Linked DNA regions of Homo sapiens. The protein of the gene in region 3 interacts with the protein of the main gene of each other region in a pairwise test. Each region holds a gene or a part of one and is shown on either strand. Other genes may lie near its edges.

Evidence for each region.
Region 1: the proteins of HIBADH (region 3) and CDS2 interact in binary tests that used the Homo sapiens proteins (3 or more experiments, as listed by UniProt).
Region 2: the proteins of HIBADH (region 3) and SNORC interact in binary tests that used the Homo sapiens proteins (3 or more experiments, as listed by UniProt).
Region 4: the proteins of HIBADH (region 3) and CMTM7 interact in binary tests that used the Homo sapiens proteins (3 or more experiments, as listed by UniProt).

What each region holds. Positions count from the first base shown.
Region 1 is NC_000020.11:5,193,008-5,199,242, reverse strand, and holds the end of CDS2 (phosphatidate cytidylyltransferase 2), read right to left. Parts: 3' UTR 1,356-6,235; downstream 1-1,355. UniProt on the Homo sapiens protein: Catalyzes the conversion of phosphatidic acid (PA) to CDP-diacylglycerol (CDP-DAG), an essential intermediate in the synthesis of phosphatidylglycerol, cardiolipin and phosphatidylinositol.
Region 2 is NC_000002.12:232,866,123-232,873,865, reverse strand, and holds the start of SNORC (protein SNORC isoform c precursor), read right to left. Parts: upstream 3,603-7,743; 5' UTR 3,525-3,602; coding exon 3,452-3,524; intron 1-3,451. UniProt on the Homo sapiens protein: Plays a role in the regulation of chondrocyte maturation and postnatal endochondral ossification. May inhibit cell growth stimulation induced by FGF2.
Region 3 is NC_000007.14:27,652,711-27,660,565, forward strand, and holds part of HIBADH (3-hydroxyisobutyrate dehydrogenase, mitochondrial isoform 1 precursor), read right to left. Parts: intron 4,057-7,855; exon of another isoform or gene 3,922-4,056; intron 1-3,921.
Region 4 is NC_000003.12:32,443,343-32,451,197, reverse strand, and holds part of CMTM7 (CKLF-like MARVEL transmembrane domain-containing protein 7), read right to left. Parts: intron 1,745-7,855; coding exon 1,646-1,744; intron 1-1,645.

The DNA.
Region 1 (6,235 bases), on a different chromosome or scaffold from region 3:
TTGAGCCCAGGGACCCTCACCACTTCAGCAACATGTGAGCCCTCGGCTCCTGGTGCAACAAAAGGGAGCAAAGCAGCCAGGGAAAACGACTCATGTTGGTTTTCCCATCAGTCTTGGAAACTGGTGGCTTGCAGTCAGATTTTGTGGGGTTTAGGAAAGTAAGTGAATGCAGTGGGTTTTTCTGCATCTTGAATGTTGGCGAGCAATTCACTGAGGAAATTCCAATGGTAGTAGCTTTCCTATGGGTGAAAATGGCAGAGGCCCCTGTCCAAAAGGTAATCAATCTAGAGGTCCCACTGGCCTCAGACATTTGCCCTGGTAAGGCTGGCCTGCTGGCTCCCAGGAGTTCAGACCCTTCTGTCCTGGGGCAGGAGACACACAGTGAGGAGACAACATAAGGCCTCCCCAAGGAAGTGCTGTTGACGGTGAGAACTGCTAGGAAAAGAGGAGTTAGGCAGGCTGACGAAGAGCTGGGAAAGGAAAAAAACTGGGCAGAGGGCCCACGCCAGGGCCCGGGACAGGCGCACACCTGGAACAAGGAAGGACAAGCGGCAGCTGTGGCTGTGAAGGCAGGGCCCGAATGCGTGGGTCAGGCACTGGCCAGCTCACAGATGGCCCCAGAAGCCTCGTTACCAAGTCTGAACTTTAACCTCAAGACCCAAAGGGTTCCAAGCAGAGAGCTCATCCCAGCTATCATGCAAGAAATGGATTAGAGAGGTGGCCAGGCTGTAGGGAGAGGGCTAGAGGCTGCCTTAGAAATCCTGGCAGGAGATGGGGCCTGGCCCAGAAGGCTGGCAGTAAGGATGATTCCGAGGATGTTTGGAAGGCAGAACGGGCAGGCTTGGGTGACTGATGAGATCACTCCAGTTACTGGCTTGTGTGACAGAACACATGGGTAGTTAGAGAACACAGGACTCAGGACATGGGTCATAGGTTTGGGTTTTATCATGCAAAGTCTGTGTGAGAGGCCTCACAGGCAGCTGGAAATGCAGGCCCACTTGGGCTAGAGACATGGACTTGGGAAGTGTTGAAATGAGTGTGGTGATCAGGATCCTGGGAGGGGGTGGGAACACCTAGAGGGGAGAATTCAGTGGGCGAAAGAGAGCCTCAGGCAGAATGCCACCACCCAAGGGATGGCCCAGAAAAGAGACACCCAGAAAGAAGACCGAGGAGGAGCAACCAAGGGCAGGAGGAAAGCCGGGGGGGCAGGTTGCCAAGGCCAAGGACAGAGGGAGTCTCTAGAAGCAAGCGGTGGTCAGCAGCATCCTGGGAAATAATGCTGGCTCCACATAAGCAACCAAACGTCCACACCCCTGGCCTTCCGCCACCCCCACCATCGAAAACCACACATGATCTAGAATTTAATATATGTTTATTTGTGTAGTAGGAACATTCAGGTATATAAATAAGGTAAATGCTTTCCAACGTACAGTATATCATGTTCTTACATTGCGTGGAAAAAGAACCTACATGTATTGTTCAACATGGATCACGAGTGCACAGAGAGAGAGATCAGCTGCATTTAGTGAAACGCCAAGTTGGGAAAATGGCACAGCAGTAGCGCACAGGCACACAGCTATCTGGGGAGGCTGTGGGGACTGTCACGTGGACTCTACACACCGAGAACTGCTTCAAGGTCGCCTGTGTCTGAGTGCGGGTAAAGTGAATATCAACACCCAGGCTATCAGGGTGAGACAACTGAATTCCATCATGTCCATCCACTTTACAAAGGGGTGGGAGGCACCATGGAGAAACTGACCAGAAATGCTCTGCCCTGTCACAGAGGAGACAGAGCCAGGGCAGACACGGCTGACCTCTGGGAGGCACAGACACTGGCAGTGATGGGTCCCATGGGATGCCTGGCACTCCCAGCACAGACAGCTCCCCAAAGCAGGTGGGGAGGCCCTTTCTGTGTTTGGGAACTTTTTAGTTAAACAAATCCTCAGAATCGAATTAAGAAGGATGTCCACAGCTCGATCAAAAAAAAAAAACCAAAAAAAAAAAAAAAACCACCAAGGTTCCCAAGATCCTTCAACAGAGGGGCTTCCCATCTGATCTTACCCTCCTGTTTCAGAAGGTATTAAACATCAATAAAAATTAAAATATATTATCAGTATCAACTCTAGAAGATAACCCATGGCTTCAAATCTCCCTGGACGGGTTCTCTGAGCCCAGATTTCTGGTCCCCAACTCGTATGACATCCAGGGCCAGCGAGCGTTCAGCTGGCATCTGTTAGAGTCTGCCCTCCACTGTGAGACTCCTGGCCCCTCCGTGGCCCTGGTATTCCTCCTGCTGCTGCCCCTAGGAGTCCTCCAGCTGGATAACAATAAACCAAACCGCTGTCTCCTAATCCCTGACTTGTTCTCCTGACTCCTAGTCCTTTGGTTTCATCGGCCCCTGATGTCTGTTCAACTCTTCCCCTTTGTAATCAGCCCCTAGCACCCAGTCAGCATGACGTAAGACAGAAAAACAGTTTACTAAAGGCCAGAGCCCTGTGCACAGAGGATTTAAAAGAAACAGCACCCAAAGGACACTCATGAAAACATGTATGCACATTCTGCCTGCTAGAAAACATTCTCAACCTCTTTTCTACTCTGCTGTTCCTTTAAGAAAAGCCAGCATACAAGAACCTAGCGCAGGTGTCAAAAAAAGGCATCCAAACTGCGAGGACAGAGGTGGCTATGTGGATGATTATCGGCAAACACAGTTTCACTAGAGACAAAATCACCAGGTGGCTAACCCTTCTGAGTGCTTTATGCAGGCAAGGTCCTCTGGGGGCTGCAAAAGGCTAGGCCCTGCCCAATGCCCGGGAGACCACTGCAAAGGCATTCTCTGCTTGATTTCCAGAGGGCCCTTACCACAACCCCCTCCCCGGCCCAGCAGTGGAGGCTTTCTATGGATACAAGGCTGCCTAGGTCTATTCAACAACACAATGAGGGAGGAAGCACCAGGCAAGGCAAACACAAACCCAGAAGGACAGGAGGGCTCGGGGGCAAGCCTGGGATTGGCCTGTCACAGCAGCTGCTTCCTAGAAACCCCCACAACCATCTTCTCCTGGTTCATGGCATTATCATTACTTCAGCAATTCAATGAAACAGAGGGACCATTATTTCCATACTATTAATAGCAATGTGCTGTTGGGTCCCACTAATACCCAGGAAATAATCCACAGTCAAACCAGTAGTTCAGTTATTATTCAACTGACCTAGGAATTTCATGGATCCTGTTAGCCAACACCATTCCTTCAAAGTGAGGCAGCCTCCCCTTACACACACGTGCCCCAACTCCCCACCCCCATTCAGAAAACTAAGTTCAAGAAACTCTTTTCATTAAGTCCTGTGCCTGTTCTCCCTTCATTCATGAGTCACCCATTTGAGTCTTTGCTAACCTAGAATCCGGCAGAAATACCTCACATCATGTGTCCTCAATGGGTCACCCACTTCTACCCGGTTACTACTTTTAGAAGGAAACATGAAGCTCCAGATTGGCTGCGTCATAAGGATGTGGGCAGAACTTCTAGGCTTTTAGTCTACATAATCCCCTACAAAGCAGGTTTCTGTTGTCCCCATTCTTCTCTTCTTGGCCCCTGAGGACATCCACCCATACAGGGAACTGCTGCAGGCTCCTGAGCTATGTGCACAGAAGACAGCCCTTGGCCAGAGCGGGAAGTGGGGTCCAGAGCGAGTCACAGACAGGCCCTCCCTGCCCAGAGTGGAGGTACCACCAGACAGGAGGAGATGGCCTTCCCACAAGCAGTCCAGACTGTGGGCAGAGGAGGTGAGCTGGATTCTCAGGCCAGCCATTCTCACTAAGAACAGAACTTCTGCACACCCCCATGTCCTCTTGCCTCGTTAGGGTGGCCTCCTAAATGGTGTGTGAAGCACCAAGATGCTGTAGGGGATGTTAAGGTTGGCGTGCTTCTCTCGGAGGGACCCAGACTGTGTGCAGGGTGGTGGCAGTGTGGTGGCTGACAATCCCATCTCTGGCATTGCACCAACGGAGGTCAAACTACCAGCTGAGCTCAACAAAAGTAACTACCATTTATTGAGTGCTTACTATGTGCCAGGCATGGTACTAAATGCTTACATGCATTACCTCGTTATATCCTCACAACCACCCCAGGAAGAAGGTACTATTATCAGACCCAACTGCCTTCAAGGTAGAAGCTTAGAGCAGCCTAGAAACCTGCCCGCACCTAGGGTGATTTGATCCCAAAGTCTGTCTTAACCACTGCTCTCGGCCTCAGTCATACTGCCTCAGTTTCCTCATCTATAAAATGGAGACAACAATACCTAATCAAAGGCTGTTTTCTGGATTAAAAGGGATAACGTATGTAAACCCTTAGCACTATGCCTGGCACATATTAAGCACTATACTATTGCAATCCTTATTAATAAACACACTGATATCTCATTGGCTCAAGAATAAAAAGAGAAGGCGCCTCAGTAGGTAGGCATTTGATGGGAAAAGGAAGGGGAGGGTGGGGGAGGAGACAGGGTCTTTAAACAGCCAACAAATTTGAAACCCACTGGACAAAAAACCCTAGACTTCACAAACTCTGCCCCTCTATTCTCATAAATCATCCGCATGTCCTCAAAATCCCAACACTTCAGCATCCAAAGGATACCTCCTAAACTGCACTCAAAGTGCGTTGGGAAACATGGTCCCTATACAAACAGGTGACAGCCTTAATCAAGAGACAGCCCCAGATGAGAACAGCCTCCATCCACCTGAGAGGCCAGGTAAGGCCACTGCTGGTCAACCTGAAAGGGAAGGGCGCATTCAGATGGCAACAGCAGCCAGGACTCTTCTGAGAATAGGGCCCACCTTCTGCAGGGATGTGGATAAGGAGAGTCCAGGCCCAAGAGAAGGTGGGCCAGGCAGAGCCCTGAGATAAGAATCCTTCGTGACCACTTGGTTTAAACCCTAGCACCCCATGCAGGTTGTGGCACAAGGCCCCCACCCAACAAGAGAAACTGAGTCAGGAAGTGAGAGCTGTTCATCTCTTTAAAAACTGGAAGCTGGGCAGCTGCGTGCAGGGTGATCAAGGGAAAAGGAAGTTTGTTTTGACCAAGTCAGGGAAGAATACGGGGCTCTGCCTGAGTATTAGCCATCATCTTCAGGCCAGAGTTTGTTCCACCTGCTCTTTGGAGTCCAGTGTTCCAAAGCACAAGTGAGAGTCCATCCGCGGCTTACTGTCTTGCAATGTGTCCATAAAAGTCACCTGGACATCCTCCCCACCCTGACCTCAGAAGAACAGAAACCTGTTCAAGTGAAATTGTCCTCCCAACTCCACCCTTTTCTTAGCACATAATCACAGTGTGCAAGAAAGGTGGGCCCAGATATGTTACTCTGGAAGACAAAAGACAATAGTGCCTAAGATATTACTAAAACAGGAAAAGGCTTCAGCAGTGACATACCACATTTAGTAGGGTGATGAAAATCTACCCCCTTGGACATGCAACTAGGACTGGCTTTGTAACTAACAAGACCCCTGCTTCACAGTTTTCTGAGCAAGGACACTCTGTCTCAAGTCACTTATACTCTCCCACTACCCGACTCTGTCAATAGTGGAGATGAACCTGAGCTTTGGGAAACATGGTCCCCATACAAACAGGTGACAAGGGCTGAGCCAAGGGCTCACTGACAGTGTGAAGATCTCAACTCAAAGATCCATTCAAATAAGGCTCCAGTCAACTCAGCAACTAGCTCAGACCAAATCACAAGGTCTGTGTAGTCTCCCTTAAAACATATTTTTGGGATTTTCTTGCATAATATAGGTCAAGTTACAGTGGAAAAAAATTCTATAAAAATGGATTCAAAGTCCACCTGTGTAAAGTCAAAAGTTGTATCCTCCCCAATGAAAGAGATTAGTTTCAAAGGATGTGAAACTAGTTCTCATACATTATAGGGCTGTACAATACTAAGAGTAATTACATTTTAAATGCAAAATACTGTAGCTACTAAAATGCCCAGAATATGAAACAAGTTGCCTAAGAGGGTTTCACTTTCAGGAGTAAAACATAAATGGAACCTTTCTGAATACTAAAAGCAGTTAAGAGGGCAGCATGCGCACACACAAAAGGCAAAGACTCGGTACCCTGTGAGCGGTCATGAGCAGAGCTCCCAGGGGCTGGGGGGTGCCCATCAGCCCTGGTTTCTATGACCCCCTTGTTCCACCAGGCAGGAGCCAACAGCAATTTAAGCTCCAACCTGGCTCAGGCCAGGCCTCCT
Region 2 (7,743 bases), on a different chromosome or scaffold from region 3:
AGCCTCCCGCAAACCTTGAAGACCACCCTGAGAGGAGGGGAAGTGACCCAGCCAGGCCTCCCATGTCGCAGCCAGAAAGGCAGGGGTCTGCAGCCTTGCAGTCCCCATGGAAGGCCCCAGGCCCCTGGCGTGCTGCCTCAGGCTTCTGGGGGCTGGGCAGGTAAAAGGCCTGAGTGCGCCCACCGCCTGGCAGGCACCAGGGTCTAGGCTCACTGACTGCCTGAACATGTCCAAAGAAATGGACAAATGACACACCCAAGACAGACTGGCAGGTAGGCACCTCCCTGCATCTGGAGGCCGCGGCAGGGCTTCTGGGTACCAGGCCCAGCTGAGCCGGGTGGCATCTGCGGGAATCAGCCGAGGAGTGGCAGGCCTCCAGCCCCTGAGAAGGCAGGGCTCAGTACCCAGGCCAGCCCAGCAGGGGTGAGCTGCCACCCTTGACGGTACCCTCTGAGCAGGGCAGTGGGGAGCCCCACTCAGGCCCTGTCCCCATCTGTCCCCCGTGACCCAGCCTGTCTCTGCTGCGCCCACCACCAGACATACCTGCCCTGGCCTCCTCCCACTGTACACAGCCCCCTCCTGTCCAGCCAGGCCATGAAGCTTTCTAATCAGGAGGGCTGGGGCCTATCCTTGCTCCATGCCCCAATCCACCTTCCTGACCTGTAAGACGGGGGTTCAGACTATGCTGTCAAGCATCTTGCACAAGGAGGTAACTGTGTGAACACCAGCATCTTCAGCTGCTGCGTCTGGCCTGGGGTGCGCCTTTGGACACAAGCCCAGTTGCTATGGGTCTGCAGCCGCTGGCTGCCACAGGAATCCCTCACAGGCTGGCCCAGTACCCATCTGCACCCAAGCGGCCAGGGCCCCAGGAGCCACCAGCTCCCTGCCAACCTAGGCTGGTGCCCAAGTGGCAGACACATAGGCTCGGAATGACAGCCTGCACTCAGCCACCGATCCACCAGGAAAAGGGGTGCCGCTGCCAGGGAGGGGCCGAGGCACTTCTTATCCTCATCTATGTTTCTAGAATTTACTCCAGTAAGAAGGGAAAGCAAAGCTGAGAGGCAATTCCCATCTTCCCCCAAATCCATCCTTCTGGGAAGCTGGGAGCAGAGCAGTTTCCCAGCAGGAGTCCTGTCTGGGGAGGGGGGAGATGGGGCAGGAGCGAAGGTGTGGAGGACGGAACTCACGGCGTGCCAGGCGGACAGTGAATAGGCCAGGGTGACAGAAAGTGAGGTTGGCAAAGAGGTGGGGGCACGGAGGACCCCAAGAAAGTTCCATGGCGGTAATGAGGCCCAGACTCCACTGACCAGAATTAGCCATGTGGTGTGGCTACGCGCTCTGACCCAGGGAAGCAGGGGCTGGTGGCACTGCCACAAGCCTGGGCACCACGGGCTCTCTCCCAGCCCCACTGGCCCCAGCCGCCCTGCCTTTTGGTAAATAAGTGTGTTCTGACCACAGGGCCCTGAGGCCAGGCGCCTCTGCTCACAGACAGCCTTTGTGTGGGCCATGAAGGGCCTTTTCATCCCTGCCCTGGCCTCCTGCCCGCTCAGCCCGGCCTGCTCCCACCTCAGTAGCTGAGGCCACAGGCCCCCAACAGGGAGGGCCTGTGCCTCAGATGGGGCCTGGGCCTCAGCCCACAAGGCCGCTCCTTCCCTTCCTGTCTGCTACAGGACCCCAGCCCACAGAGCCCAGGGCCGTGTACACACCTGTCCAGAGCTCCCAGCCCAGGGGTGGGGTCAAACGCTCTCGCAAGAACAACAGCCAGAACCCCAGAGACTCCGGGGTTGGGAAGGCCTGGTCTGGCCCCTGCGGGGGGCCTGCCTACTCTTGGTAGGACACATGGAGGGAAGTGGGGCAGTGAGGCCAGGTGAGGTCCTGGCTGTCCCCAAGGCATCCTGTGGTGGCAGAGGAAGCCCACCCGCCTACAATGATTAGGGACAGTCTGGCCTGGGAACTCTGGCCGGCAGCCTGGGCCAGGAGGGTCAGCCACACAGGAGTAGGAACCTGGGCAGGAGCCACAGGCAGCCCAGGCCCAGCAGGCAGGAGCCAGGGCCTCCCCTTCGGCCCACACGGACCACCAGGCTGGAGAAGCAGCTTCTTCCCAGTGAGGGGGCTGCAAAGATCACAGCCCCAGGATCCAAGCCATGGAAGATGCCACCTTCCCCTTTAAGTCCCTTCCCCCCATCCTGGGAACACCGCATGGCTCGCCTAGGCTGGCGCCTCTTCCACCACAAGGGAGGCTGGCGCCCTCCCAGCTTGCGGGAGGAAGTAGAGTTCTGTTGAGACCACCCTGTGCCAGGGAGGGGCTCGGACCACAGAATCCACATTCGCGCTAACTGGATGTGGGGCCCATCCCAAAAGCTCCGCACGTCTGAACTCACGAGGCCTCACAGACCCCTGCAAGTGAGGCAGAGCGTGGCTGTGTCACCATCCTACAGATGACGAGAAGGCACAGAGAGGTTAAGAAACCGCCCGGTCAAGACTGAGCACACCCTGGCCTCAAGCTTCTTCCTGGGCGTCCAGGGAGAAGCCAATAGTCTCCGGTGCTCCTCGCTGTCACCCAGACCTCCCAGGGTGTGGCCGAGGGGGCCTCCCCAGGCCTGTCGTCCCCCAGAAGCTCTCCCCAGGCCATGCTCTCATGACTGCGGTCCACCTTTCTCACAGATCCACGGGCGCCCTCCAGAAGACCCAGGCTGCAGGGTCCCTGAACCCCGCTACTGTGACACAGAAGCCAGCTGCCCTTTGGTCCAACTCCCGGCCAAAAGGAGCAAAGACCACCTGTAACCCGTCTGCGCCCTTTGTCTCTCAGGCTCTGAAGCCAGCCTGGGCCAGTCTTCCCCTCTCCACAGGGCCCTTGGGAGCCTGCCAGAGGCCTCCCTCTCGTGGGACCCCAGACTCCGCCACTCTGATCTCAGTCCAGAGGTCCACACCGTTTTGCAGAGGGATCTTGGGCCTTGTATTCTCTCCCTCTCTGGAGCCTTTTCCCAGATGGGGACAGTACCTGGGTCCTCATTCTCTAAGGACGTCGCAGAAACCAGCAGGGAAGCTTTTCAAAGTAATCAGCAAGGCTCTGCACTCCTCTGGCCCCTCAGCTGCTTGTCCTGTGCCTGGTGCCCCAGCTGCCTCCCAGACCTGGGAGACTTCAGATTTTAAAGTGCTAGAGCAATACCCATGTCCCCCTCAACAGCAAAACATCCCTGGGCCTGCCCCCCAAGTTGTCCTCCTTCTCCAGAGGCCATTATCCCTCCTGCTAACAATTTCCTGAGACGTCCATCCCACACAGCTGCTGCCAGCCGGCCTCACAAGAGCTCTTCGCAGAATCACCCCAAATAGTCATCCCATCTCCTGTGAGAGGGCTTCCTCCCCAGTGAACGTTGAAGAATCTGGCCCCAAGGTAGTTATCGGCCCTGGGAGGCTAGTGGTGGCTGAGACAAGGGCCTTCACCTCTTACCTGTGAGCACCGCAGGGGCCAGAACCCCGGAGACCAGCAGCAGCGCCATGCGCAGGGCCAGACAGGATGCCATCCTGGCCGGGAGTGAGGGCAGCGGCGGGCGGGACGCACGGAGGACTGCGCTGGTTAACTTCAGGGCAGTGAGAAAGAGGCATCAAAGGGCTGGGAAGGGTTTTCATCAATGCAAACTCTGTCCTCCTGGGACATCGTGCCCGCACCTCCCCACCCCCCCGCTCCCCCCACCAACACACACACACAAGAGCTCACAGAACAGACCTGCTTTCCTGAACCTGGGAGCAGCCCCGCTCTTGGAGAGGGAAAGAGGAAATTGCCTGTGCTCTCTCTCTTTCTCCACCCCGCAACACACACACACCTCCCACATTTACTCCTGGACCACTGAAAATGAAAGGTTTTCAAGCTTTCTTGTGCAAAAGAATCACCCAGGGAACTTGAAACATGCTGCTGCCTCTGGCCACTGTGTTTCAGTGGGGCTTGGGTAGCCCAGGGAATCTGCATGTTAGTGCCTGTGGCCTGGGCTTGGGGAAATTTGGCCTGAAGCAGGCAGCACTGAGTGCAGGACGGACTCTGCTCACCTCTGGGTTCTCCATGCCTGGCCCGGAGTAGGTGCTCAGTGCTTGTTGAAGAAGGACTTTTAAAGCAGTTTTGATCCAAACCCTCAGGCAGCTCTAGTCTTTCCTAAAACGCTCCTGTTTCCTCTTTCGCTCTCTGCCTCCCTAGACCCCTGTGCACTTATGACATCCATTTCCAGGCTGGGCCTGGCTCAGAACTTAGCCCCACTGCCCACTGCTTCTCAACAGCCCCGCAGGGTATCTCACGAGCGGCTACAACTTACAGTGTCCAAAGCAAACCTTGACTCTACTGCCCCTTCCCTCACTCAGTCAGTGGAATCCCAGTTCCCCGCTCCCAGATGTTCTAGCCACACAATGAAGTCATCAAAGGTGTCTCTTTCCCTCACTTCCCACGTCTGAGCCCTCAGAGTTCTGTCAGCGCCCCCTACTTCACACCTTGATGGTTTCCCACCGCGCTAAGGGCTTGCCTCGGCCCTGCTCAGCTTCCCACCCACGAGCTCTATGTTTCAGTCCACTGGCCGTGACTAGGCTCCCCCAACAAACCCCCAGATCCTGCCTCAGGCCTTTGCATGTTCCCCTCTCCTCCCAGAAGGCAGTCCTGTGGTGATTATGTGGCCACCCCTTCCATTCAAGCCTCAGCTTGATAAGTCAGCCCCTCAATCCCCCCATCACTTCAAATTTCTTTTTAGCATGCGTATTTATATGAAATTACCTTGTACCTACCCTAACAACTTCTCCTTGCCTCCATATCCATAACTAGAATCAGGTATCAGCATTCCTAGGGAGAGCAAGCACAAAGTCTGACTTAGGAGGAAATAAGCACAAACTAAAAACTACTGTTAATTTATGCTAGCAATAAATTAGTATCAAGTTAGTAAGATACGAATTTTGCTAATTTATATTAATAGAAACATGGTGTGGGAATGAATTCTAAGGTGTCAGACTAAATAGGCAAGATGTGAGTATGACATTAGATCCGGCCACATTCTAGACAGGGGTGTGCTTAGTGAAGTCTGAATTTAATGTTTCAACCTAAGCATCTAGGAGCAGCTCTGTTTGGCTGGCTGACCAAAACCTAGGCTCAGTAAAAGCCTGGATGCTATGAGATTGAGAAGCCTAACTTAATGAAGAAGGGGATACCAATGGCTTAGTAAGAAAGGAATGTTGGGGTGGATTTATCTTTGGCGACCACACTAAGTTCTCAGTAGGTCCCATAGTACACACTATTCACCAAGACACTGCGAGATGCATTAGTGAAGACCGGCAACTTTAAAAAGATAGGTTGTGGCTGTTTTTTGTAGGCCAGAGTTGATGATGGGATCACTGATTTCAGAGGAAATAATGTGATTCTAAAGTAGCAGAGGCCAAGCGGCAGCAGAGGCCGGGTGGACGCCAACCCTGCCATGGATGGTGAAGATGAAATGACCTGGCCAGGTGCGGTGGCTCCCGCCTGTAATCCCAGCACTTTGGGAGGCTGGGGCAGGCGGATCACTTGAGGTCAGGAGTTCAAGACCAGCCTGACCAACATGGCGAAAACCCATCTCCAATAAAAATATGAAAATTAGCCAGGCATGGTGGTGCACACCTGTAGTCCCAGCTACTTGGAAGGCTGAGGCACAAGAATTGCTTGAGCTTGGGAGGTGGAGGATGCATCTCAAAAAAAAAAAAAAAAAAGATGAAATGACCCATCAGAATGTTTTGATCCCTAGGAATAAAACAGCCAGCCAGTCTACTAATGTATTACTTGATATACAAAAATGAACAGGTGAGCAGAAATCTGTATTTACTATAATGGAGCATCAAGGTTCTCACTTGGTTCCCAGAACCAAAATCTCTTGATAGAGAGGGAGGCAATTTATCTTTAAGGAAGGACCCTGCAAGATGGCCACAAGTACAGACAATGAATCTTCTTCCAAATCTTCCTCAAAGGTTTAGGCAGTCGTGGACCAGAATAGCTGGGCACTGGCGGAAAGGAGATGCATTTGTATTTCAGGGATCACTAGACTTTGGCTTTTTGCTGACACTCATCTTTGGATATTCAAAATGTCACTGTGTTTACCAAAGTGAAAGTGTATGGAAGTCAAGTGACATATGGATGATAGGGAGGGAGGCAGGCTGCCCAGGGGCAGCAGTGGGCTGAGAACCCACCCTGGGGAGGCAGGACGAGGCAGGCGTGAGCCAAGGCTGCAAGCTGCTGCTGCGTGCTCCACTATTCCATCAGACTTTACTTATAAAACTCAAATTTCAAAGATAAAATTAAGAATTTCAAGACAATGAATTGTATTTCAAATGATTATTATAACCATGCTAAAGGTAGAAAAAAATACTTAGACCAGACAAAAAGTCTAAAATTACAGATAGCTGCAATGAATAATACTATACATATGTATTTTTATAATGTTGGAGTGTCTTTAAGCAAGTATAGAACTCTACTTGGAAAACTTGTCTCTAGTTAGAGCTAACACATATAGAACTCTAGTTTAGAAAGCTTGTCTCTCTTGGTATGGGTTAGCAATTCTGTAACCACTTTGGTATATCCTAGGATTTAGCAAATAAGGAAATACTGAGGATTATGGAAGTGCACAGTAGTACTAGTCATTCGACAGACAGGTGATTCCCCAACAAAAACACCAAGGAAGTGTGAAGCTATTTTTTAGAAATAAACCCAATTTATGGCTCATTTTCACAAGTTTTAGTACCTAGGTTAAATTTTCCAAAGGGTGTTCAGGCTTGGCTGGGCACTGTGGCTCACGCCTGTAATCCCAACACTTTGGGAGGCCGAGATGGGAGGATCACTTGAGGTAACGAGTTCGAGACCAGCCTGGTCAACATGATGAAACCCCATCTCTACTGAATGTGAGAGACATGGTGAAACCCTGTCTCTACTAAACATACAAACATTTTTATAATGTCTTTATAATAGTCTCTACTAAAAATATAAAAATTATCCAGGCATAGGGGTGGGTGCCTATAATCCCAGTTACTCAGGAGGCTGAGGCAGGAGAATTGTTTGAACCTGGGAGGCAGAGGTTGCAGTGAGCTGAGATCGCACCACTGCACTCCAGCCTGGGTGGCAGAACAAGACTCCACATCAAAACAAAAACAAAACTCACTTTTTTTTTCAAAGGGTGTTCAGACCTTTGTGCATGTGTGTCCCAAACTTGAACCTAATAGGCGTGCAAACAGAAAATTAATCTCATAAGCTGTGGTGAAAAATACCATAGAATTTCCTCTAATTTAACTTACTAAAAACTTAGATTCTTGGTAAATACTAAAAATTTTCTCAAAACCTATCAGTTATTCAGCAAGTAGTTATTGAGTGCAGGTCCACAAAACATGCCAAGCAATACACAGCTACACAGCTACCAAAAGAAGGGTGTAGTCCTTGGCCAAAGTGAATATATCCTACGAAACGAATTTAACAATGGAAACTGCTGGGAGCTATCTGCGTTTGGGTTTCCCTAAGGCAGACCTTAAGACAAAGACCTGGGCACAGAGAACTTATATAGGTGGGGCCAGTAAGACAACAGGGATAAAGCCAATAAAGTTTGTGTTAATGAGCAAAAGCAAAAACACTGAAGGTAAGGGAGTGTGAGGTTTCTCCCTGCTTAAGGGAATTGCAAATATGAAAAGGAGAGATTAGAATGAATCCTATGGCATTTGTACTGGAATTGCAGATCTCAGCATGAATACACAGATAGG
Region 3 (7,855 bases):
AGCAGAAAGAGAAGCCACTCTCATGTCTCTCTGTACAACAGCACTAATCCTATTCACAGGAGCTCTATCCGCATGATCTAATTGCCTCCCAAAGGGCCTAGCTCCTAATATCATTATATTGAGGGTTAGGAATTTTGGCCAGGCGCAGCGGCTCACGCCTGTAATCCCAGCACTTTGGGAGGCCAAAGTGGGTGGATCACCTGAGGTCAGGAGTTTGAGACCAACCTGGCCAACATGGTGAAACCCAGTCTTTACTAAAAATACAAAAATTATCCAGGCATGGTGGCATGTGCTTGTAATCCCAGTTACTCAGGAGGGTGAGGCAGGAGGATTGCTTGAACATAGGGGGTGGAGGATGCAGCGAGCCAAGATCGCACCACTGCACTCCAGCCTGGGTGACAGAGCGAGACTCCGTCTCAAAAAAGAAAAAAAAAGGAATTCAACATATAAATTTTGTGGGGACATAAAATTTCAGTCCATAACAAAGTCAAAATTAATAAAGTGTGGTAGCCACAGGAAAAGACAGGTATAAAAACTATTTCAAAGACAGAAGTAAAAGGATAAAACAATGGATTGGATTATAGGCTAAAATAAGGGTGAGGTCCAAAATGACAGTAAGAGAATAGTGTTATCAATACCTAAGTGAAGAAATCAAGGAGAGCTGGCTCAGTTTTACCCAGGGTAACTATGAACTGTCAATGAGCTGAAAAGATGTCCAACAGACTATTAGAAATACCATGACCGGCCGGGCGTGGTGGCTCACGCCTGTAATGCCAGCACTTTGGGAGGCCGAGACGGGCGGATCACGAGGTCAGGAGATCGAGACCATCGTGGCTAACATGGTGAAACCCCGTCTCTACTAAAAATACAAAAAAAATTAGCCGGGTGTAGTGGCAGGCGCCTGTAGTCCCAGCTACTCGGGAGGCTGAGGCAGGAGAATGGCATGAACCTGGGAGGCGGAGCTTGCAGTGAGCTGAGATCGCACCACTGCACTCCAGCCTGGGCGACAATGTGAGACTCTGTCTCAAAAAAAAAAAAGAAATACCATGACCAAGGTTTCAGTGATAGGATGAGAAAAAAGAGATATACCTGGTAGCCATTTGTCTCAAAAGTTAAGAGGTGAAATTTGTAAAAGTTAATAAAATCACCAGATGAGTATGAAGAGGCTGAAGGCCAAAGTTGAACCTCTCTGAAGCCCAAGGGAACGTGTATACTCAAAAGTCAAAAAGTCAAAACCAACCCTAAGCTGAAACAGATGTTAGAATTAGAAAACAAGGACGTTAAAAATTATAACTGTAGTCTATATATTCCAAAGGTAGAATTATGAAAGATATTTTTATCAATACAAATTAAATTTCTTGAGATGAAATCTACTACTAAAATATGTGAGATGAAAATTATACCAGAAGATTAACTGAAGAGTAGATACCAAAGGAAAGATTAATAACCTTGAAGATACAGCAATAGAAACTATTCAAAACACAAAGAAAAAAATAATTTAAAAAATAAAGAGAGCATCAATAAGCTGTGAGACAGCTTCAACCACCCAAACACATATGTAACTAGAGTCCTCAAATGAGAAGAGAGAAGTGGGGCAGAAAATATGTGTGAAGAACAAATGGCCAAAAATGTTCCAAAGTTGATGAAAACTACAAACCCCATGCATCCAAGGAACTCTATGAACCCCAATACAAGAAACATGAAGAAAACCATATTAAGATGCATCACAATCAAACGCACAAGAGCAGCCACAGGAAAAAGGACACACTATGTAGAAAGGGAAAAAGATAAGGATAAAGGCAGATTTCTCATCAGAAACAATGCAAGTGAGAAGACAGTGGTGCAACATTTTTTAAATACCAGAAGGAAAAAACAACTATCAAGCTAGAAATCTATAACCAAGAAAAATATACAAATATTTGTATATTCCAGAGGTATGAATCAATCTCAGGGGTATGATGATGGATATGTTTACCATTTTTTTGTGTTTTTTTTTTGGACAGGGTCTCACTCTGTCGCCCAGGCTAGAGTGCAGTGGCATGATCACAGCTCGCTACAGCCTCAACTTCCCAAGCTCAGATGATCCCACTTCAGCTTCCCAAGTAGCTGGGACTACAGGCACATGCCACCAGTCCTGGCTAATTTTTGCATTTTTTTGTAGAGATGAGGTTTCATCATGTTGGCCAGACCAGTCTCGAACTCCTGAGCTCAAGCAATCAGTGGGCCTCAGCCTCCTAAAGTTCTAGGAGCGCAGGCGTGAGCCACCGCACCCAGCCACACTCTCTTGACTGTGATGATAGCTTCACCGGCTTATATACATCAAAACTAATCAAACTGTATACTTTATGTACAACTTATCATATATCACTATATTGCTAATAAAGCTGTTTTTAAAAAGTCAGTATCATATATATAGAAACAAACAAGAGAAGACAGTTCTCAATTAGTACTAAAGTGATAGATCAAATGTAAAGTGTGAAGTCTGAATGGATCCTGACTTTAAAAAAAAGCTAGCCTTTAAGAAAATAATGAAATTTTGAATGCAAATTGTACATTAGATGATACCATGGAATCACTGCTAATTGGCTTAGGTAGGATAATGGTAGTTTGGTTACATAGGAGAATATCCTCATTCTTAGATTCATGCTGAAGCATTAGGGTTAAAGTGTCATGTCAGCAATTTACTTTCAAATGATTCAAGCGGGATAGGTATATATGTGGAAGAAAAAAAGTCAATGTGGCAAAATATTAACAACTTGTTTCTAAGGAAAGAGTATATGGATGTCAGTTATATTATTCTTTCAATACTTTCTGCTTCATATTTTTCATAATAAAACAAGGGGAAAAAGATTAGCATATCTATATGGAAAAAATATCACAAACAGATAAAATACAAATAAGAAAAACACTCTAACACATGACAAAAATAGAGCTACTTTGTTTTATATGTAAAATAACTTTACAATCTGGAAGAAAAACATGAATAATTTTTTAAAGTAGGCAAAAATCACAAAATGACAACAGAAAATATGTAAATTACCCCCCAGAAAACCTCTAAAAATATACCCAACTTGTCATAATTAGAGAAATGCAAAACAAAATGATGTGATACCATTTTTCACCTGTTGGATAAGTTTTTTCTTTGATAAAAACTACTCTTGGTAAGAAATAACTGATGAAAACATATGCTCTCATATACTGTCAAATTGTATATTAGGTCGACCTTTTGGATGGTAATTTGGCAAAAAAAAATTTGAACTTTTATTTAGAATTTAAATTTAAAACATGCATACTCTTTGACCTAGCAATTCCATTTCTAAGAATATATACTACACATGAGGGGCCAGCCAACTTTGTCTTAAAGAGTCAGGCAGTAAATTATTTTCAGCTTTGTGAGCCATTGTGAAATGGTGTTACAACCATTTCATTCATCTACTCTAGTTTGAAAGCAGCCATAGACAACATACAAACAAATGGGTATGGCTGTGTTCCAATACAATTTTATTTACAAACAAGGTGCCCAACTATGGGCCATAGCAATCCCTACTATGTATTAAATTCTGAACAACACAAAGATATAGTTTATTACAGCACTACTTGTAACAGCCAAAAAACTGCAAATAACTATGTATTAATAAGGCACTTCATTCATAACTAATTATATATTAATAGGGCACTTAATTCATAACTAAATGTACATTGTAGGACACTTGATAATTCACAGTAAATCAACACAATGAAATGTGCAAATGTTTAAAAAAAGGTGACATTTATCTAAAATTATAGGAAAAAATCTCCAGGATAAGTTATTAAGTGGAAAAAAAATGCTGAGCATTATCTATAGGATACAGTATAAGAGAAGAAAAAATGATACATATGCATTAATTTTTCTGATTTTCTGTATGGATACACACGAAACAGTACTTACACCTGGAGAGTTGGACTACTGGGTCGGAGTTGAAGAAAATTTTACTTTTAATTTTATAACCTTTCCCATTTTTTACCATGAGCATGTAACTTTTGTAACTACTTTTATAATAAAATGAAATAAATGAAGTGGCACAGTGAAATTTAATATATGCTATGTGAATGAATAATAAACTAGGTAAGTTTCATCAAATGGGCATATGGGAATAAAAGCCAGTTCTAAAGCAATTACAAAGTAATGCTGCTGATAAAAGTGGACTGTGTAAAGGTAAACAGTGTCACAGCAACCATTACACATTGCAGGTTGACTCTCCAATATTCTTTCCCGTAGATCCGAGGTCAAGTTTCAAACTGTCTAAACTAATACATGGTAATGGCATCCTTCTGCCAAATGACTGGTTCAGGAGCTGCCAGCCCTAAGTTAAAGTTCTGGAAATGCTGTGGAAAATCTGAAAATGTAATGGGGAATAAACAAGAGATTAATGAAAGCATTGTATCTAATCAGCAAACTTCTGTGACTCTCCATATCACCAAGCTAAGTGACAGCTGGGGAAAGGCACAAACAGACCACAACAATGGATTTATCCAGAAATACAACAAGAGGCTGAAAAAAACAGTATTAGGCATCAGTGAAATTCCTAATTATAAATAAGTTTGAGAATGGGTACAGACAAACCTAGAGAGAGACCTTATGAAATGAGGAAACAAGAAAGCATGTCTATGTACTTGGAGGAAAAGGGAGGGAGTCAAAGGACCAGGTGATGAGCATTATGTAACAGTATGTTTGTTAGAACAAGAATCACAGAGGAGGTTAAATCAACCAGAGACTAGTTCTGCTGGTGAAATCTCAGCAAGAGAATCACTCCTACTACTAAGATCCTAGAAAAACTGAAGTAGAGTGCTGATGTTACTGAAGCTGAAGAAGTTAAGAACAATGAGGCCATGTTGGATGGGCCAACATGAATGTGAATGAAGATAAAGTTTTCAAAGGACTCAGCTCTCTTTATTTCATCTTTCTCTGTGGCAAAGTTAAAGAAAGGCCAGTATAATTAGATGACCTGATGTCAAAAGAGAATAAGTTATCTATTGATGGTGATAATGTTTAAAATTTTCTCTGAGTTGGGAAGGCCTAGGTTCCTATCCTGATAAGTTCACTTCTTAGATGTATACCATTGAAGTTACAAGTTACTTAACTTCTCTAGACAACATTTGATCAATAAAAGTACCTACTTCAGAAGATTATTGTAAAGATTACTTGAGATGATGCATATAAAGCGTTAAACAGTGCCTGGCACACGATTGATAATAAGTATTAGTTACTCTTACCAAAAATGGTCAAGTTGTAGCAGTACAGGTCAAGTCCTATGCCAACTGCCCCTTTTTGCCTAGTGGGTTACAAGAGCCAAAGAGATAGAAAAAAGTATAGATGACTGTAGGAGAAGCCCTGTATCTGGGGAAAGAAAGCTTTTAGTTAAGGTGAAACACCTGAATAAGCGCTTGGCAAATATAAAATAATTTGCACCCAAAGGGGCAGAAATCCATGAGTATAATGGAATGATTATTGCCCTAAAAACTCTCAAACCTAAATAATGCATCTCTCTTTAAATAACTTCTGACAGTAGTGCGTGGAAAAAGTAGAGTTAAAACATAAATAAAACCAAGCTGGGAGAAAATCAATCAACCAAATACAAAGGTGATACTGGTTCACTGGTTAAGAAACTAGCATTAGTGTCTATTACTGAGGACGAATGAAAAGAAACTAGCCAGAAAACTTGGCAAAGTTTGTTTCTAAATTTATAGATGCAAATTTACCGATTATGACCTCTTTCTCCAATGTAACAAGGGGAGTTATCCGTATCTTGATAACCTTAAGTGCTATCAAAAAGCAGGTTTCACTAAGTGTCAAAATGCAAAAATTGGTAACAAGTTAATTATTTTACATTTCTGAGGCTTCTTTTCTATTCAAAGTAATGCATTTTCATTGTAGAAAACTAGAATGAAAAAGTATACAGTTGTAAGGGGAAGCAATCTCATTACACAAAAATAAAAAAAACATTTTGCATGGACTTTCAGTCTTTTGACTGCATTTTTCATTATATCATAAGGTTATATTTTCTATACAATGTATGTCTATTTTATCACATAATACATTTTTTATATCTATTTTATCACATAATACTACGTCATAAGCACTCTATCTGCTTTACTATTAACAGTTACTAAACTAAGGGTGACGACTTTCTCTATAAAGGCCTTTACGGTTTCAGTCAACTTATTTTAGTAATAAATACGCTCCTTATGTAATTTCACAAGTTTAGGGTCAACTTTTAGGCCCCGGACCATGAGCAGCTTTTCAGAACTTCATGTGCAGCCCTAGAAGCTAATGTAAAGGGAAAAACTGCCATTATATATTTGATTTATCCAATGAGTTATGCTACTTTGAAAGTAAATTTCACATATACAAAAAGGACCAATAATATTAAAAATTGTATTCCTGTTTCTATACATGATGCTAATTTTTCCATTCTACCTTTGGTCAGGTGGTCACCTCAAGATGATCTGATGTGATTTATTTTTCCATGTACAAGCTGTAGAGTCACAACGTGACATTTTGTAGAGGGCCTATAGCTGTAGATTTTCTTCTCTGTACAAATAAGTCTGAAACTAAACTTAATTACCTTCTAAAATAACATACACAATTTTATCAAACAGGTGATGAAATAGTAATACATGTACACTTTAACATTTCTCATTCTTCTATTTCCTTTTCAATGCTTTAAGTATTTTAAAATTAGGCTTAGGCACAGTGGCTCATGACTGTAATCCCAGTACTTTGGGAGGCTGAGGCAGGAGGATCAGTTGACCCCCAGAGTTCAAGACCAGGCTGGGCAACATGGTGAGACCCCATCTCTACAAAAAAAATAAATAAATAAATAAAGCCAGGTGTGGTGGTGTGCACCTGTGGTCCCAGCTACTTGGGAGGCTGAGGCAGGGGGATTGCTTGAGCCCACGAGGTTGAGGCTGCAATGAGCCATGATTGCACCACTGCACTCCAGCCTGGACAAGAGAGAGAGAGAGACCCCATCTCAAATAAACAAACAAACAAACAAACAAACATTTAAAAATTAAGATGTGGCAGGCTGGGCACAGTGGCTAATGCCTGTAAGCCCAACACTTTGGGAGGTCAAGGCAAGAGGATGGCTTCACGCCAGTAGTTCTAGACCAGCGTAGTAGGCAACTAGCCTTGTCTCAAAAAACATTTTTTTTTAAATTAGCTAGGTATCGTGGTGCACCCTGCAATCCTAACTACTTGGGAAGCTGAGGCGGAAGATCACTTGAGTACAGGAGTTCAAGGTTGCAGTGAGCTAAGTAGGTGCCATTGTACTCCTGCCTGGACAACACGGGGAGACCTGTCTCTAAAATGTATTTATAAAAAAGTTAAAAAGATGTGCTACTAACCGGCAACTTTCAGGTTTCATTTTTTTAAACAGTAAATTATATAGCTCCTTATAATATTATCATTCATATGATATAAACATCTTAAACATACTACAAATATCCAACAGAATTCAGAACATCACACATTACTATCTGAACATGGTTCTTTTTCTTAATGTCATTTGACTCCAAACTTGCAGGCAGATTTTTTTCTACTCTTTAAGAATCTAATGTCAGAAAAGTTAACACTTTTGCAGTAAACTAAAATTAACAGAAATTTAAATGTTTAAAACAATTCCAAAGAAAGGCCGGGCACAGTGGCTCACGCCTGTAATCCCAGCACTCTGGGAGGCCAAGGCGGGCGGATCACGAGGTCAAGTGATAGAGACCATCCTGGCTAACATGGTGAAACCCCGTTTCTACTAAAAAATACCAAAAAACTAGCCGGGCGTGGTGGCAGGCGCCTGTAGTCCCAGGTACTCCGGAGGCT
Region 4 (7,855 bases), on a different chromosome or scaffold from region 3:
ATCCACTTCTTCCCCGGGTTTCTTTTCCTGGGCTCCTTTTGTACCAATTGTCTACAGCACATAATTAGCCTATTAGAGCCTGTCCCGGCCTCTCATTGTCTGTTCTGCACAATTAGCACGTTATATACCATCCCGGTCCCCAACTGTCTGCACTGCATAATTGAACAGTTTATTATATCGCTACAGAATGCTATTCTAGACTACAACGCCTTGTTTACTAATTGTTTCATGTGTCTTGTCTCCTAAGCTAGATGACCACTTTCTTATAAGCAGGGACCATATTTTAAAAATTTCTTCTAACTTCCTCATAGCCCAGGTTTGGTCCTAGGCACACAGACAGCATATGATGAATGTTAGCTATAGAGATTCCAGGGCTAAACAGTTATGTGCAACCTGAATTACTAAACACAGTGGGAATCTCCTCAAGTGGGCCCGGAAACACAGTGGGCACAGGTCTCCTGTGTGCCTCTTCCAGTACCCTGCACTGTAGCTGGGCAGGTGTTAAGCTTCAGGGGGCAACCATCCCTCTCTTCAGAGACAGCAGAGAGAGGGGGCAGAGAGGTGTGATGGTGGGCTGTGGGAGGGCCATGTGGAGCATCAGTGTTGGGAGGTTTGGCCACCCTCTACAGTGACCTTCTGCCCCCATGCTGACCTTCAGAGGAGAGACTCCATCCCTCAGTGGAATTCCAGGAGCCAACCCACTCCCAGGCCAAAGTCTGGAAAATTTTGGTAATATACGTAAGTGAAAGACAATGAATGTCACATACAGAGAGAGCTTTTCTTTTTCTCTTTTTCTTTTTTTAAGACACAGGGTCTCAGTACGTTGCCCAGGCCAGACCGAACTCCTGGGCACAAGCATTCCTGCCGAGTGCCTGGGACTACAGGTGCATGCTAGCTACCACATCTGGCTTGAGAGAGCTTTTCTCAAAACTCATTTTTAAAATCTTGTCTGCTCATCAGTGAAGCAAATCAGTGTTGGCCCACAGGCCACTGAACTATAAATAGTTAGCTAAATCAGAAATCAGATGACAGGAATCTATGAATCTTTAAAAAAATAGCATATACATCTGTATGTATATACATATATATGTATGTATATATCTCACAGGACTGTATTTTTGTATATTTCCATCTACTTCTATTTATGGCTATCAGATGGATCAATTTTTGCCTCTGAAAGATACAGGAGTATTATTTCCTGGCCTGAATACTGTTAAAAATCAGGAATGGCAAAGCTCAGGCTCATGGCATGTATCTCTAATTGATCACAGTACATTTCCCACTGGGCCCAAAAGAGGCTCCAGCATCTGTCTCTGCATAGTGCTGAGGCAGCCAACGAGCAAATGATCAGAGTGGGTGTGTGAATTAAAACCCGCCTGGCCCCCTGATTTCAGTAGTGCCTGTAAGAGAGAGAGGCCTGGGCTGCTGGGGTCTATGAATTTGCTGGCAGCCCTGACAATCCACCTTCTGGGACTGTACGCCTCTGCTTAAGGCTCTTTGGAGAGAGCTGATGGCTGGATCAAGGTAGGTATTGATTCTATGAAGGGAATGCCCCAGAAACCAAGCCCTTCTCTTCCCCCATCAGGAAGAAAATGAGCATTTTAAATAAGAATTCATTCCTAAAGGCTCCCCAAAACATCCTCACCGCTCCGGCTACCAGTCCGCTCTGGTTGTAACTCTTGGAAGCTGCCACAATGGAGGCGATGAGGAGGAGCAGGGTACCGATTAAATAGTGCAGAAGTTCCTGGGGGCAGAAACAAAGCAAATAAGTGGGTAGGGCCGTCCATTTCTGGTCCGGGAAGAGCAACTGGGCATCAGAAGACATGAAAAGAAAGGGAGAGAGTGACGCTTCCTCTTCTCCCTTGCAACACGCAAATGGGATGAGCAGAGCCGCTCGCAGGCAGCCAACATGCGGGCTGACCAGGAAGAGGCCAAGCAAGACAGAAGTGATGCCGGGCAGGCAGGAAGGGAAGAGGACAGAGAGAAAGGAAGCTTCTGGTGTGAGCAGAGATAGCCACTAAGGACTCCTCTACTCCTGAGAGCAATCTGTGGACAGTGCCTTAACCTCTGGCTAAAGCTACTAAAAAGCAAACGAGCTTCTTGCAACTTCCCGGCTGGAGAGTTTAAACAAAGCTCCAGCTCGGAGAAGCAAAGTACCTTAAAGAGATATTTGCCTTTCTCTTCTGCTTCGGAGAAAGTTCTGGGCTAACAATGTGCTGGTCTTGTGTGACTGATGGGAGTGTCAGCCCACTCTGTGAATGGCCCCAAGTGTGGACTTGAGAGGTATTCATTCCCAGGGTCCCGTCAGACTCAGACTCTAGAATGAGGTCAGTGGCACTTCTGTGAAGTGCCTGTGGATGTGTGGTGGCAGCTGGCTTTCTCACTCCTGAGCCTTCCTGCCTTTTTTTTTTTTTTTCCTGTCATTCCCTCTTCTCTTTTCTCCAGAAGAGTGCCCTCCCGGCCAAGCTCTGCCAATGAATCCACTGGCAGGACTGGTTCCACCTTTGCTTCTCGCCTTGGCCCATGGGCCATGCATTTCCACCCCACTCACTCATCATGATTAATCAGCATCCTTGCAGGCCCTGGATGAGATGGGCCTTTCAGTGGCGAGGGAAAGCTTCCATCTCACCCTTTCTCTTCCCCATTAAACATCAGATCCGAGAAGAACTGAGGCTGGGGGCCACTTCCAGTGCTTGCTCTGAATCCAGGGTGCATCCATTTTCAGTTGTCTTCAATGAGAATCTAGAAATCATTCCTTCATGAAGTTCTGCCCCTTAGGGCAGGCAGCTATTAAATTTTGGAAAAGCATTCCAATTTAAAGCTGTAGCTCCTCTCAAAGCTATGTAAAATCAAAGACCCTGGTTTCTCCCTTAGTGACTAGAAAGGAATATCACAAGATAGATCACAGAGATTTTAACTGAAGAACAGATGAGTAACTGCAAGTTCCCCACCTCCAAGATTCTCAACTATTAAGACAGAGGAGGATGACATGGGGCAGAGAAAACCAACTTGAGAGAATCCTAACCGGAAGTACTTAAATAGTATCTCAGCCAAAAATGTGTGGCTGAGTCTGTCCTTCCAACTTTCACTCCTCATGCAGCCCACTCTTGTGCTTGTCCCTGAGCTTTTGTTCTCTCCTTTGCTTGTTCAGTATCTGCATCAGGTAAGCCCCAGAGGAATTTGTTCTCAAAAGAAGCAGAAAAAAATGCCATAACTTTGAAAGGGGCCTTAGAACTTAGAAACACAAAAGAAATTTCTCTCAAAATAACAGTGGGTAATAGTGTTAAGTGTGAACAATTAAACAATCTAATCAAGATGCAGAGGTGGTCAGATTGGATTAAAAAACCAAAGCAAAACGAGAAATAACTACAGTATGTGCTGTCTATGGGAGAGAGACTTTATATTCAAAGATAAGGAAATGGCACGCAAACAACAACCAAAAGAAAGCCAGGGTGTCTACACTGCATCAGACAAAATAGAATCGAACACAAAAAAAAGTTACTAGAAATAAAGAGGGACATTTTATAACAATGAAAAGCTGAATCCGTAAGTAAGATATAACAATTATAAACGTATATGCACCTAATAAAAGAGCCAAAACACATGAAGTGAAAAATGAGAAAAATGAAGGAGAAAAACAGACAATTCAAAAATAATAGTTGGAGAATTCAATATCCCTACTTTCAGCAATGTATAGAACAACCAGGTAGAAGGTCAACAAGGAAATAGAAGATTCAAACAACACCATAAAATGACTAGACCTAAAAATCCTCTATAAAAACTCTATCCAGCAAAAGTATAATATACAAATATACAATGTATAAAAGTACATTCTTCTCAGATGTACACAGAACATTGTCCAGGATAGACGATATATCAGACCATAAAACAAACTTCAATAAAGGTAAGAAGGACTACAAAATATGTTCTCTGAACACAATGGAATCAAATTAGAAATCAAGAGCAGAGGGAAATCAGGGAAATATATAGAGATTAAACAACATATTCCTAAATAATGAATGGATCAAAGAAAAAAAATCATAAGAGAAATCAGAAAATACCTGGAGATGTATGAAAATGAAGACACAATATACCAAAATTATGGAATACAAGTAAAACAGTTATCAGAGGGAGATTTATAGCTGTAAATGCCAATATTAAAGGAGAAGGAAGGTCTCAAATTAGATGATGACCTTCCACATCATCTTAGTCTGTTTTGCGTTGTTTTAATAAAGGAATACCCAAGGCTGGGCAACAAATAAAGAAAAGAGGTTTATTTGCCTCATGGTTCTGTAGGCTGTACAAGAAGCATGGCACCTGTATCTGCTTCTGGTGAGGGCTTCAGGGAGCTTCTACTTTCTGAAGCAAAGGTGAAGGTGAGCAGGCATCACACAGCCAAGAGGAAGGAAGCAAGAGAGAGGGGAGGAAGGTGCCAGCCTCTCTTTAATAATCAGTTCTCATGGGAACTAACAGAGCAAGAACTCACTTATTACCACTAGAACAGCACCAAGTCATTCACAAGGGATCTGCCCCCATGATCCAAACACCTCCCACTAGGCCCCACCTCCAACACTGGGAATCAAATTTTAACATGAGATTTGGAGGGGACAGATATCCAAACTATATTATACATTAAGACACTAGGAAAAGAAGATCAAACTAAACCTAAGGCAAGAAGAGGAAAGAAAAAAAATAAAGATTAAAGCAACATTTATTAAGATAATAGGAAAACAATAAAAAAATCAATGAAACCAAAAGCTGGTTCTTGAAAAGATCAACAAGATTGACAAATCTTCAGCTAGATTGATCAAAGAGAAAGAGAGAGAGAAGATGCAAACGAAAGAGGAAACATTACTACTGCACTTACAGAAATAAAAAGAATGTAAGAAATACAATAAACAATTGCATGCCAATAAATTCAATGACTTAGATGAAATGGACAAATTCCTAGACATATATACTACTAAAATTGACTCCAGAATAAATGATGCAATCTGAAAAGATGGTAAAATTAGAGTTCGAATTAACAATAAAAAAAATTACCCACAAGAAAAGCTGAGACCCAGTGTCACTGCTAAATTCTACCAAATAGTTAAGGAATAATTAATACCAATTCTGCACAAACTCTTTCAAAAGATAAAAAAGGAGGGAATATTTCCTAAATTATTCTGTGAGGCCAGTATTAACTTGATACCAGAACCAGATGGACATCAGAAAAAAAGAGAACTACAGACCAATATCTCTTTTAAATACAGATGCAAAAAATCCTCAACAAAATATTAGCAAACTGAATATACCAGCATATAAAATGGGTTATACATTATGGCCAAATGGAATTTACCCCAGGAATGCAAGGTTGGCCCAACATATACAAACAAACCAGGCCAGGTGTGGGGGCTCATGCCTGTAATCGCCACACTTTCAGAGGCCGAGGAAGGAGGATCACTTGAGCCCAAGAGTTCAAGACCAGCCTGGGCAACATAGGGAGACCTTATCTCTACCAAAAACAAAAAAAAAATTAGCCAGGCATGGTGGTGCACACTTGTGGTCCCAGCTACTCAAGAGGCTGAGGTGGGAGGATCGCTTGAGCCTGAGAAATAAAGGCTGCAGTGAGCCATAATTATACCACTGCACTCCAGCCTGGATGATAGACCAAGATCCTGTCTAAAAAAACAAAACAAAAAAAACAAAAAACAATGTAAGACACCATACTAATAATGGGAGAAAAACTCATCACCTCAGTAGATACGGAAAAAGCATTTGACAAAATCTAATACTCTTTTATGATAAAAACACTCAACAAAGTAATGCTAGAAGGGAACTTCAACTTGATAAAGGGCTTCTACAAAACACTCACACCCAATGTTATATTTAATGATGAAAGAAGGAATGCTTTCCTCCTAACATGAGGAAAAAGATAATGATGGCTGCTCTGCCATTTCTATTCAATATTTGTCTAATTTAGTCAACTAATTTCTTGCAATAAGGCAAGACAATGAAATAAATGGCATCCAGATTATAAAGGAAGAAGTAAAAATATCTCTATTTGCAGATCATGTTTACAGAATATCCTATGGAATCCACTAAAAATATATTAGAAAAATATATTAGAACTACTAAGTAGTTCAGCACAGTTGAGGACACAAATCAATATGCAAAAAGTAATTGGATTCCTATGCACTTGCAATGAACAATCTGGAAATAAAATTAAGAAAAAAATTGATTTAAAATAGCATCAAAAAGAATAAAATGCTCAGACACAAATTTAATTTAAAAAGTTCAGGCCAGGCACAGTGGCTCATGCCTGTAGTCCCAGCATTTTGGGAGGCTGAGGCAAGAGGATTGCTTGAGCCCAGGAGTTTGAGGATGCAGGGAGCTATGATCTTGCCACTGCACTCCAGCCTGGGTAACAGAGCAAGAACCTGTTTCAAACAAAGCAACAAACAAAAAACACTTTTACTCTGAAAACTACAAAACATTGAAAGAAATAACAGATTATCTAAAAAAATGGAAAAACTTCCCATGTTCATGGATAAGACAATATTATTAGGATAGCAATATTCTCCAAATTGATCTATGGATTCAACATAATTCCTATTATAATCCCAGCTGATTTTTGTAGAAATTGAAAACCCGATTCTAAAATTCACATGGAATTGTAACGATCCAAATCAATCCTAAAAAAGAAGAATAATTGGGAGGCTGCATATTTGCTAGTTTTACAACTTACTACAAGGCTACAGTAATCAAAATAGTGTGATAATGGCATAACGACAGACACATAGATCAATGGAATAGAATTGAGAGTCCAGAACTAAATCCATGTATTTAATGGTCAACTGATTTCAACAAGGGTGCCAATGCCATTCAATGGGGGAAAGAATAGTCTTTTCAACATATGATGCTGGGATAATTGGATATCTACATGCAATAGAATGAAATTGAACCCTTACCTCACACCCTATGCAAAAAACATTAACTCAAAATGGATCAAATACCTAAATGTATAAACTAAAACTATAAAACTCTTGGAAGAAAACATAGAAGTAAATTTTCACAATCTGAATTTGGAAATGGCTTCTTATATGTAAGAAAAGCGTGAGCTAAAAAAGAAAAAAAATAAATAAACTAAATTTATCAAAATTAAAAACTTGTGCTTTAAAGGACACCATCAAAAAAGTGAAAAACATCAGAATGGGAGAAAATATTTTCAAGTCATATAGCTGATAAGGGACTTTTATCCAGACTATAGAAGGAATTCTCACAACTCAATAATGAAAAGACAAATAACCTAATTAAAAAATAGGCAAAGGACTCGAATAGACATTTCTTCAAAGAAAATATACAAATGGCCAAAAGCACATGAAAAGATGATTAACATCATTAGTCACTGGAGAAATGAAAATCAAAACCACAGGAAATAACACTTTACACTCACTAGAATGGCTGGAATCAGAAAGTCAGATAATAAGTGTTGGCAAAGATGTTGTGAAACTGGAACCTTCATACACTCCTGGTGGGAATGTAAAACAGTGAGCCACTTTGGCATACAGTCTGGCGGTTCCTCAAACAATTAAACACAAAGTGACCATATGACTCAGTAATTCCCCTCCTAGATACATACCAGAGAAAAATGAAAATATGTCCACACAAAAAACTTGTATATGAATGCTCATAGCAGCATTATTCATAATAGCCAAAAGGTAAAAACAACCCAAAGGTCCACTGAAGATGAATGAAAAACAAAATGCAGTCTGGTCTATCCACACAATGGAATAAAATTTGGTTATAAAAAGGCTGGCATGGTGGCTCATGTCTGTAATCCCAGCACTTTGGGAGGCCAAAGTGGGAGGAT